Regions from separate parts of the Homo sapiens genome. Here region 2 is linked to region 1. The links come from fine-mapping of genetic effects on gene expression. Tissue or cell type: whole blood. Region 1 holds a variant in brackets; the other region holds the start of a gene. All regions are shown on one strand. Distances are from middle to middle.

The links. PIP is the estimated chance that this variant, and not a neighbour inherited with it, causes the effect.
Region 2: it holds the start of EVA1B, and the variant in region 1 is fine-mapped to the expression of EVA1B in whole blood (INTERVAL, PIP 0.96).

Annotation. Positions count from the first base shown.
Region 1 is chr1:35,501,300-35,506,447 of GRCh38, forward strand. All of the region lies in intron 3 of KIAA0319L (KIAA0319 like), which reads right to left. Among named protein-coding and RNA genes, the nearest start is that of KIAA0319L, 54 kb to the right of the region's middle. The variant A/G (reference allele first, on the strand shown) is at 3,179.
Region 2 is chr1:36,321,220-36,326,367 of GRCh38, forward strand. It overlaps EVA1B (eva-1 homolog B), which reads right to left and starts at 2,426. Exons shown (of 3, transcript NM_001304762.2): 1 at 2,240-2,426; 2 at 1,752-1,848; 3 at 811-1,506. The coding sequence starts at 1,818. The coding sequence ends at 1,076. It overlaps SH3D21 (SH3 domain containing 21), which reads left to right. Exons shown (of 16, transcript NM_001162530.2): 16 at 1-128. RefSeq lists enhancers at 1-808, 1,695-2,579 and silencers at 1,624-1,813, 1,904-1,953, 2,014-2,373, 2,464-2,693.

The DNA of each region.
Region 1 (5,148 bases):
CTAACTTATCCATTTCTAATTTCACGGGCCATAATTATCCTATAGTATGCTGGAGGTATTTTCTTTGCTGCTGCTTCCCAATGTCCTCTGCAAACCATTATTCTTCTACCTCCCTGTGAAAACCTCTTCTCCTTTGCCATCTTGCTGCCACTTCAACTCTCATTGCAGCTATCATCTCCCAATTTACTCGTCACTCTTCCTATTTTACTGGTGACTTTGACATCTGGCTTTCAAAAGTCCTCCTCATCCCAAGTCCTACCTGAACAGTAAGAAAGGACAGGCCAGTAAGAGGACAGGCCAGGCGTGGTGGCTCACGCCTGTAATACCAGCACTTTGGGAGGCCGAGGCAGGCAGATCACCTGAGGTCAGGAGTTTGAAACCAGCCTGACCAACATGGAGAAACCCTGTCTCTACTAAAAATACAAAAAATTAGCTGGGCGTGATGGCTCATGCCTGTAGTCCCAGCTACTCGGGAGGCTGAGGCAGACGAATTGCTTGAACCCGGGAGGTGGAGGTTGCAGTGAGCCAAGATCGCACCATTGCACTCTAGCCTGGGCAATAAGAGCAAAATTCCATCTCAAAAAAAAAAAAAAAAGAGGACTGAGTCCGTACAGAATCAGCCTGCTTAGGTTCAAGTCTTGGTTGTACCACATACCTAGCTGTGTTGCCTGAGTTTCCTCATTTATAAAACAGGAACGGGCAGGCACAGTGACTCATGCCTGTAGTCCCAGCACTTTGGGAGGCAGAGGCAGGCGGATCACGAGGTCAGGAGATCGAGACCACCCTGGCCAACATGGTGAAATGCCATCTCTACTAAAAATACAAAAAAAGTCGCTGGGTGTGCCACACCCCTGTGGTACCAGCTACTCTGGAGGCTGAGGTAGTAAAATCACTTGAACCCAGAGGCAGAGGTTGCAGTGAGCCAAGATCGCACCACTGCACTCCAGCCTGGTGACACAGTGAGACTCTGTCTCAAGAAAAAAAAAAAAAGAAAAAAAAAACAGGAACAGTAATAGTAATTCACAAGATTTGCTGTATAGATTAAGAGTTAATACACGTAAAGGGTTCTGAATGGTACCTGGCATATAGTAAATGCTCAGTAAACATCAGTTATTGCTGCTGTCATCATCATCATCATCATCATCATCATCATCATCATCACCATCACCATCATTAAAGACTACCTCAGTGTCCACATGGGTAACTCATTTAACACGTTCTTTGAGCTTGCTGGGTTCTTTGAGCTCCTTGCCTCCAATAAACTTCTTCTCCACTCTACCCCAGCAACCCTCTTCCACAGCTCACCCTAGATTCTGCCATCAGAACTTTACCACCTCCAAAATCTTAAATTCAAATATTACATACTCTGACCACCGCCTCCTATCCTTCCAGCACTCACAATTACCCATTCCTCTGACATCTGCTTCCCATCATGGTAACCACTAAATGCCAAACTTGTCTACTTCTGTAGCGCCTTGCTATCTTTGCCTCTTTTTATACTTTCTCATACTATCTCTCATCACTCTTTTTACAACAACCTCGATTTCCATACCTCATTTTCCTTCTGTACAAACTACCTAGCAAAGTTCCTATCTTGGATGAATCAAATTATCAGGCTTTTCTTGACAGAGTTGCTGAGAGCTACTGAGGAGAATCACACAACTTAAAGATCAGTACCACTGTTATAAATGCATGATCTCCATCTTCAAGGCTACCCAGCAATATTTCTATTTTCTTACCTAGTTTGCCATCTTCTATCCTTCACGATGGCTATTTTAGACCTTTACCCCACTCTCTAAACCTCTGATTTTCCTGTCTATTACCCACTCCCCCCAATCCCATCTACCTCTACCTCTGTTTCTACTATCCATAAATGATCTATCACACTTAAGAAAAAACAAGAAAGAGATGAGAACTACAACAATTTCCTTCTACCCAGTATATAAACCCACCCTAGCTGTGTCCTACCCAATCCTTTCTCTCTGTCACAATGAAGGAAGTATCCTGCTTAAGACTAATACTGTACTCTGTGCTCAGTATTCTAACCTTCCTGCCCTATAAGGCAGTGGTTCTGGTCCCTGGGCAGCAGCATTGGCACACTCCAGGAACTTTCTGGAAATGCAAATTCTCAGAACATACTCCAGACCTACCGAGTCAGAAACTATGGAGTTGGGGCCCGGCAATCTTTTTTATTTCCATCTCTTCAGAGCAAGAAACAAAGACCAATTTATTTTTAACAAGGCCTTCAAGTGAGTCTGATGCATGCTAAAGTTTGAGAACCACAGCTCTAAGGGATTATTCATTATTTATCCCTTTTCCTGTCTTTAATCTCCTTTTTTAGTACAATGGTTCTCTTGCCTGAAAAGCCTCCTATTTTACCAGGCCATATACAGTTGGCCCTTAAACAACACAGGCTTGAACTGCGCAGGTTCATTTATATGTGAATTTTCTCGTGCCTCTGCCGCCTGAGACAGCAAGACCAACTACTCCTCTTCCTCAGCCTACTCAACGTGAAGACAATAAGGATGCCTATAAGATGATCCACTTCCACTTAATGAATACTAAGTATATTTTCCCTTGTGATTTTCTTTTTTTTTTTTTTTTGAGACAGAGTCTTGCTGTGTCGCCCAGGCTGGAGTGCAGTGGTGCAATCTCGGCTCACTGCAACTTCCACCTCCTGGGTTCAAGCGATTCTCATGCCTCAGCCTCCCAAGTAGCTGGGATTACAGGTGTGCACCACCTCACCTCGCTAATTTTTGTATTTTTAGTAGAGGCGGGGTTTCACCATGTTGGCCAGGCTGGTCTTGAACTCCTGACCTCAATTGATACACCTGCCTCAGCCTACCCCAGTGCTGACATTACAGGCATAAGCTGCCGTGCCCAGCCCCTTATGATTTTCTTCCCTTTTTTTTTTTGAGACAGAGTCTTACTCTGTTGCCCAGGCTGGAGTGCAGTGGCGCAATCTTCGCTCACTGCAAGCTCCACCTCCCAGGTTCACGACATTCTCCTCCCTCAGCCTCCCGAGTAGCTGGGACTACAGGCGCCTGCCACCACGCCCGGCTAACTTTTTGTATTTTTAGTAGAGACAAGGTTTCACCGTGTTATCCAGAATGGTCTCGATCTCCTGACCTTGTGATCCGCCCGCCTTGGCCTCCCAAAGTGCTGGGATTACAGGCAT[A/G]AGCCATCACACCCAGCCAATTTTCTTAACATTTTATCTAGTTTAAGAATACAGTATATAATGCATATGACATACATAATATGTGTTAATCGACTGTTTATCTTATTGGTAAGGCTTCCAGTCAACAGCAGGCTTTTAGTAGCTACATTCTGGGGGATTCTGAAGTTTATGCAAATTTCCAACTGCACAAAGGGTTGACATTCCTAACCCCTACACTGTTCAAGGGTCAACTGTATATTCTCGCCCTTTCCAGTCTACTCACCACATAGCCACTATCTGATTATGTCATTCCCTACTTAAAACTCCCTAATGGTTTCCCACTGATCTTCAGATAAAAACCAGTATTTTAATAAGGCCTCAAGGTTCTGCATACCTCTCAAGACTTCTCTTTCACCACCAGCTCTCTTTCTCCGTTTGCCCAGCAACACCAGTCTCTCCCAATTTCTTGAGCTCGCCATATTCTAGGGCACCTAACACACTTTGAAATTGTTATTTCCTCTGCCTGAAATACTCTTTTTCCCTGTTTCTTTTCCGAATTCCTACTTCAAATATCAGCTTAAACTTTCTTTCTTTAAAGTGGCCTAACCTGACACCTTAGTTTGTATTAGGTGCCTGTTGGATGCTTTCACGGCACTCTGTATTTACCCTCTCATTACCCACATCAAGCTTATAATTATTATAATAATTTAATTATTAGAAATGTAATATTCCTTGCCAGAGTATAAGCCTTGTTAAGGCAGAAATGATATTCATCTTATTTATTGTAATATTCCCAGTATCCAGCTTAGTATAGTACCTCGCAAGTAAATACACAATGACTATGACCGAGCCTTTACATACACTGTGGCTCTGTCCAGAATGTTTTTTTACCACCATTAACCCCACCCCAGTACAATCCTACACATCCTTCAAGAAATGTTAAACATCTCGGAGAAGTCTTACCTGCACATACACACCACTTGCCTGCTGAAGTGAATCACTTCTTGTGTTCTTACTGCATTGTGTACATAAGTATGTTAATGCAATAATTATACACCACTGTAAATACCTATCTTCATGTATCAGTCTCCACTAGATTATAAACTCCCTGAGGGAATGAACCATTCTTATTCACCTTTGTATCTCTAAGGCTTAGAAAAGTGCCTGACATTGACAGTAGGTAGCCATAAATGTTTATGGGCATATTAAATCTAGGATTGTTCTCTAATACTGCACTAAAAAGTTTTTTTCTTAATATTAAATCTGGGTTCCAATTCTAGCTATGCTGCATGATCACTGGCAAACTGTTTAACCTCTCTGGGCCTCAGTTTTCTCACCAGGTAAACAGGGCTAATAATGCCTACTTGGAAATATTGCTATGAAAATTAAACAAAATGATACAGTGCAACAATTAGTACACAGAGCGCTTGGCATGTCATAGCCCACTCTGGCTTCAACTTGATAGAGACAACTAGGACAAAACAAATACAAAAATAAGTCACAGCAATCAAGGAAGACTGAGCAGAGAGTGAGTCATTCCTTTTAATCATTTCCCCAAGGAGATCAACAATGAAGAAACATAATAAGCAGAATAAACTCTACTGGTGGTATCTCCCTTGGCATATACAGCTTGGTGAGAATTCACTCCAGAGACCTCTTGGCTAATGGCCACATCCTGCTCCACAGCCCAGCAGGTCAGATCTTAATCTGTAGTACCAAGCATGGTTAATTCTGACTGGAATAGAAACTACCTCATAAAGAATGTGTTTACAGGCGAGAGATGGAGGAGAACTTGACTGTAACCACATCAATCAACTGTTTTGCAATTTGGCAGAAAATACTGCAGAATGGTTGGTGAATACTAACAGCCATACAACTGTACTTACCTGTAGCCAAGAACCAGCTTAGACTAGATAATGAGCAGCTTTCTGCATTTACCAAAACAATGGTCAGACCTACATAGCATGAACATCTCTAGGGTCAAATTACCC
Region 2 (5,148 bases), 820 kb after region 1:
CCTAGCACGGCGCCACGCCGGTCTGGTCGCTGGGGGCGGGGCCTGCGCGGGGGCAGGGCCTGGGCCTCCGCATTCCTGACGGTCCCTCCCAGGCACATCTGGCCAACATGTGGCTCCCATTACCGTTCCCAAGGCCTGCGCGCGGCTATTTTTATCCACCGGATGGTGAGGGGCGGGGGAGGGTGTCTCCTTCGGACTCCAGCCGCGCACTGGAGAAATGGCGGGCAGGAGGGGCCCAGGCGGGGTCGGGCTCTTGACGCCCGGCCTAGATTCCGGAATCCAGCTGTGCGCCGGGGAGGAGCCGGGCGGGCCTTCTCGCCAGCTCGGACCCCTCCCAGCTGGCCTCCCTGTCCGCTCAGAGGGACTCCTGCCCTCTCGCTTGAACGCACCTCGGCGCAGACGTGAAGTCCACCGTCCAGCCCAAGCACGCATGCTTACACCGGGGCTAGCAGCACCTTAGCCTCGAGGTCAGGGTCCTGAGGCCTGGTGTGTGTGTCATTGCAGTGTATGAACCCAGGGCACTGTGGGGACAGGGCGACGTGTGTCCAGGCGTTTGCCGGTAAGGAATGCGTTTTGAATAAGGAATGCGCGCGCGCTTGCTCTGTGTGTGAGGCTGGGTGCAGGCCTGTGGGCTTCTGCTTTTCTGCTGGCTGTGAAGTGAATGCGGGCAGGTGTGCTGTATCGTCGGGTTGGTGGGTGGGGGTGGTGCAGCTAGGGTAAGGGAGTCAAGCTGGGCCTCAGTCCTGGGGCCCCTGCGTGGCAGGAGCCTGGGGGTCGCTGGGGGCAGGAGTAACAGAGGGAGAGACTGAGTCACTGAGAATGCAGCTTTCTTTCATTTGGTCACTTCACCTCTTCATCGACCCCAGAGAGGGAGTGGGGACCCTGCATGCTGCCCCCTCCCCGCCCCCGGGGTCTTCTGGCAGGACTGGGGAAGGGAGCCTCTCAGGGGGTGGCGGTCCACGCCCAGTAGCACCTGGGAGCTGTGGGGGCCGAGGCAGTCCGAAGGTGTGGGGTAGCTCTGAGCTCATGTGCAGGTCCGGTACCCCGAGCGCCTTGCAGCGGGAGCCGGGGCCCATCAGTAATAGTGCATGCGGCCCAGGGTGCCCGTGGCCGTGGGGCTGGGCCCCAGCGTGCCTGTGCCCAGCAGGTCCGGCTGCCCGGTGCGCCAGATCTCCCGCAGGATCCGTTCGCGCTCCTCCAGCCGCTGCGCCCGCTCCAGCTCCTCCGCCGACGTGAAGACGTTGACGTTGAGGGGCCCGTCCGGCTCTGCGGACAGCTCGGGGCCCGGCAGCGTGTCGTCGGGGCCCAGCCGAGTCACCGTGTCCTCCTCGTCCTCGTCGTCGTCCTCGGGCTCCAGGGTGCTGCTGCGGGGGTCCCGGCGCTGAGCCGGGCCCCGGGGCCGCGGGCGGGGCGCCCACGAGATGCTGATGACGAGCAGGCAGAGGGTGAGCAGCAGGCCGAAGCAGACGCCCAGCACGAAGTAGAGGCCGAAGCTCTCGGGGTTGGCTGCGGGGCACAGGGCGGGGGTCACGGAGAGGCCCGGACGGGTGGGGGTTGTCCCACTTCCGAAAGACCCCAGGTTCTAGGTGTGGGGGCGAGGCCTGTAACCCCTACTCGAAGGGCATTAGGGAACCGCCAGCGGGCAAGAGGGCGGGGAGCGGGGCGGAGGGGACGGACAAGGCGCTGGGGAGGGAAGGGGATGGTGGTCAGGGAAGGGTTCAGGCCCCCAGTCTTCCGGCGCCCGCCCTCACCGCGGATGTGCGCGTAGGCAGCCAGGCTGTTGCTGAGCAACTCCATGTCCCTTCGCGGGGCATCCATGCTGCTCTGGGGGGCAGCTCCCCTACCAGCCTGCGAGGTCAGCAAAGTCAGATCCTTCTCCCAGCCTGGAGCCCACCCCGACCCCTTCCGCGGGCAGCTCCTCTCCCGGGAGCCGCGGGCCCAGGTTCCACCCTGGAGAGAGCGCTTCCCTAACTTCGTGGCGGCCCGGGGCCCTGTCGGGGGGAACCCCTCTCCCGGGCGCGGACGCCCCTCCAGTCCTGGGAGCAGCGCCGGGGACCGCGGGAGGCCCCGCCCCCTGGTGAGGTCCCCAGCTGAGGCCCGGTTCCGCCGTCCCGGGGCGGGATGGAGGATAGGGACGCTGAGCCTCCACGCCCCAGGCGGGCTCCGGGAAGGGAAGCTGCCTCTCTCCTCGCCCGGCCGCCCCGCGGGGACCCACCGGCCCGGGGCCAGGCCCACTCACCGTCAGCGCCCCGCTTCCCGGCTGCCCGGCCCCAGCGCGTCCCGCGGCCGCATACACTGGGTCCGGCCGCCCCCGCCCGCTCGGGTCCCGCCGCCCCTCCGGCCCCGCTGGGCTCCCAGGCCGCGGCAGCACGGGCGGGACACGGACCGAGGGACCAGCCGGCGGAAAGTTTCCTCCGAGGAAAGAGGAGGGACGGGGCGGGGCGGGGCGGGCGGGGAGGCGGGGAGGAAAAGGGCTGGGAGAGGAAGGGGAGAGGAGCGGGCAGCCGGGAGGAGGGAGAGCCCGGCCCGCGGGCCGTCCGTCCCCCACAGGAAACCGCCGGGGAGGCCGCGGCAGGGACCCGCCCCCAGGCCACTAACAGCAACAACAGAGAGGCTGGAGCTCTGCCTGCGTGCGGGCCAAGGGCTAAACCTTGGACAGGTTCTTTCACTTACTCCGCCTGACAACCCTGCGACGTGATACCATTATCCCCACTTCGCAGATCAAATAAACGGAGTCTTGGAGAGATTGAATTGACTTTACCAAAACCGTCAGGATTTGAATCTGCTGCTCTCTGATCCTAAAGCCTGAGCTAGAAACCACCGCTCCCCCTCCTAGGAGGCCCCTTCCAGGCAAAGCTGCTTCTCTTCCCCAGACCCATGCTGGACTGGAAGGGAGGGGACTGTCCACCCCTCCTTCCAGGGCCCAGGCTTGAATGTGTCCCCTGGCCGAGCTCTGGTCTAGTCACGCAGGGTTAATGATTGTTGGACTCCAGCTTTGAGCCAGGGCCCGGCCAGCAGTCTCGCAGACCCCAGCGTGGGGCCTCTGTGCCTGCGAGCTCCTGCGCTCTTGTGCACCAAGCAGCTTGTGGCGGCTTGTGGCAGATCCCACCCCATCCCGTCCCCCACCCCAAGGCTAAACCTGCCTGTGCTCACACACGCATTTCCCACCTGGGCTTGTGCATGCAATGTGGTGTGTGATCAGTGTGTGTGGCGGGGGGCTTCCTTCTGCCCTGTCTCCACGGGGCCCCCCCATCATGGACCTCCCCTCCCTTGCTGGAGCTAGAATGAGGGGGAGGCCGCCTTGGCGGGAGCCTTAGAGAGGAGGAGGAAAGGGGGAGAGGAAATTGCAGACATAGCTGAAGGCGCTGCCTGAGGCCTGTGGGCCAGCGACCCTCTCCCTGTCCGGGCTGCAGACCCCTACTCCCCCAGTCCCGAGACTGGGTTCAAGTAGAGGGCAGATCTAGATGGGGGAGGACTAGGACTGACTCCTATGGGGATGGAAAAGGGACTCCTGGGTGTCTTTGTGACTGTTTAGTGTGTTCTGTGAATGTGCGGGCAGGTATTTTTGCCCACATCTGTATATTTGTCTATTAATGTGATGTATTTGAGTATTGTTGTGGGGGCGGGTATGTCTGTATATAAATCTGTGCAGCCACTAGTCAACAAATACTGTGTATGCCTAGCACTTCCTAGTCTAGTCCACAGCATCTGTGGGTTTAACCAACTTTGCATCAAAAATATTCAAAACCAAAATTGCATCTGTGCTGAACATGTACAGACTTTTTTTCTTATCATTATTTCCTAAACAATAGATATATTTAATTTTTTTTCTTTGAGACAGGGTCTCACTCTGTCACCCAGGCTGGAGTACAGAGGTGCTATCTCAGCTCATTCACAACCTTTACCTCCTGGGCTCAAGTGAGCCTCCCATCTCATTCTCCCAAGTAGCTGGGAGGGACCACAGGCGTGCACCACCATGCCTGGCTAATTTTTGTAGAGATGGGGTTTTGCCATGTTGCCCAGGCTGGTCTTGAACTCCTGGGCTCAAGTGATCCACCCACCTCAGCCTCCCAAAGTGCTGGGATTACAAGTGTGAGCCATCATGCCGGCCAATAGTGTATTTTCATAGCGGTTACATTATATTAGATATTATAAGTAATCAAGAGATGATTTAAAGTATACAGGAGGATGTGTATAGGTTAAATGCAAATACTGAACCAATTTATTTTACATCAAGGACTTGAGGATCCTTGGATTTTGGTGTCTATGGGAGGGAGGTCATGGAGCCAATCCCCTGAGAATACTGAGGGACAGTTTTTTTTTTGTTGTTTGTTTTTGTTTTTGAGACGGAGTCTCGCTCTGTCACCCAGGCTGGAGTGCAGTGGCGCGATCTCGGCTCACTGCAAGCTCTGCCTCCCAGGTTCATGCCATTCTCCTGCCTCAGCTTCCCAAGTAGCTGGGACTACAGGCGCCTGCCACCACGCCTGGCTAATTTTTTGTATTTTTAGTAGAGACCGGGTTTCACCATGTTAGCCAGGATGGTCTCGATCTGCTGACCTCGTGATCCACCTGCCTTGACCTCCCAAAGTGCAGGGATTACGGGCGTGAGCCACCGCGCCCAGCCCTGAGGAATAGTTTTAATGGGGATTTAACAATAAACAGAACAGACACAAATCCTTGCCCTCATGGAGCTGACACTAAATTGGAGAAACAATAGAAGATAATCTCAGATGCTTCTAAGTGCTGGGGGGCATGACAGGATAGGGTAATGCGATGGACAACACCTGGGAGTGGCTCTCACAGGGACATCCACAGTGAGACCTGAATCCTAAGGAGGAGGCAGCTGTGCCAGGATCTGGGGAGAGTGTCTGGGCAGGAGTAAGAACATGCTTGGGATACCTCCCTCCAAGGGAAGAAAGCCACGCAGATGGTGTGTGGGTGCAGGGGAGAGTGGCAGGGGCTGCCCGTGCAGGGACTCGATGGCCTTGTTGATGAGCTTTTTCTTTCTTTCTTTCTTTTTTTTTTTTTTGAGACGGAGTTTCACTCTTGTTGCCCAGGCTGGAGTACAAAGGCGCGATCTCTGCTCACTGCAACCTCTGTCTCCCGGATTCGAGTGATTCTCCTGCCTCAGCCTCCCGAGTAGCTGGG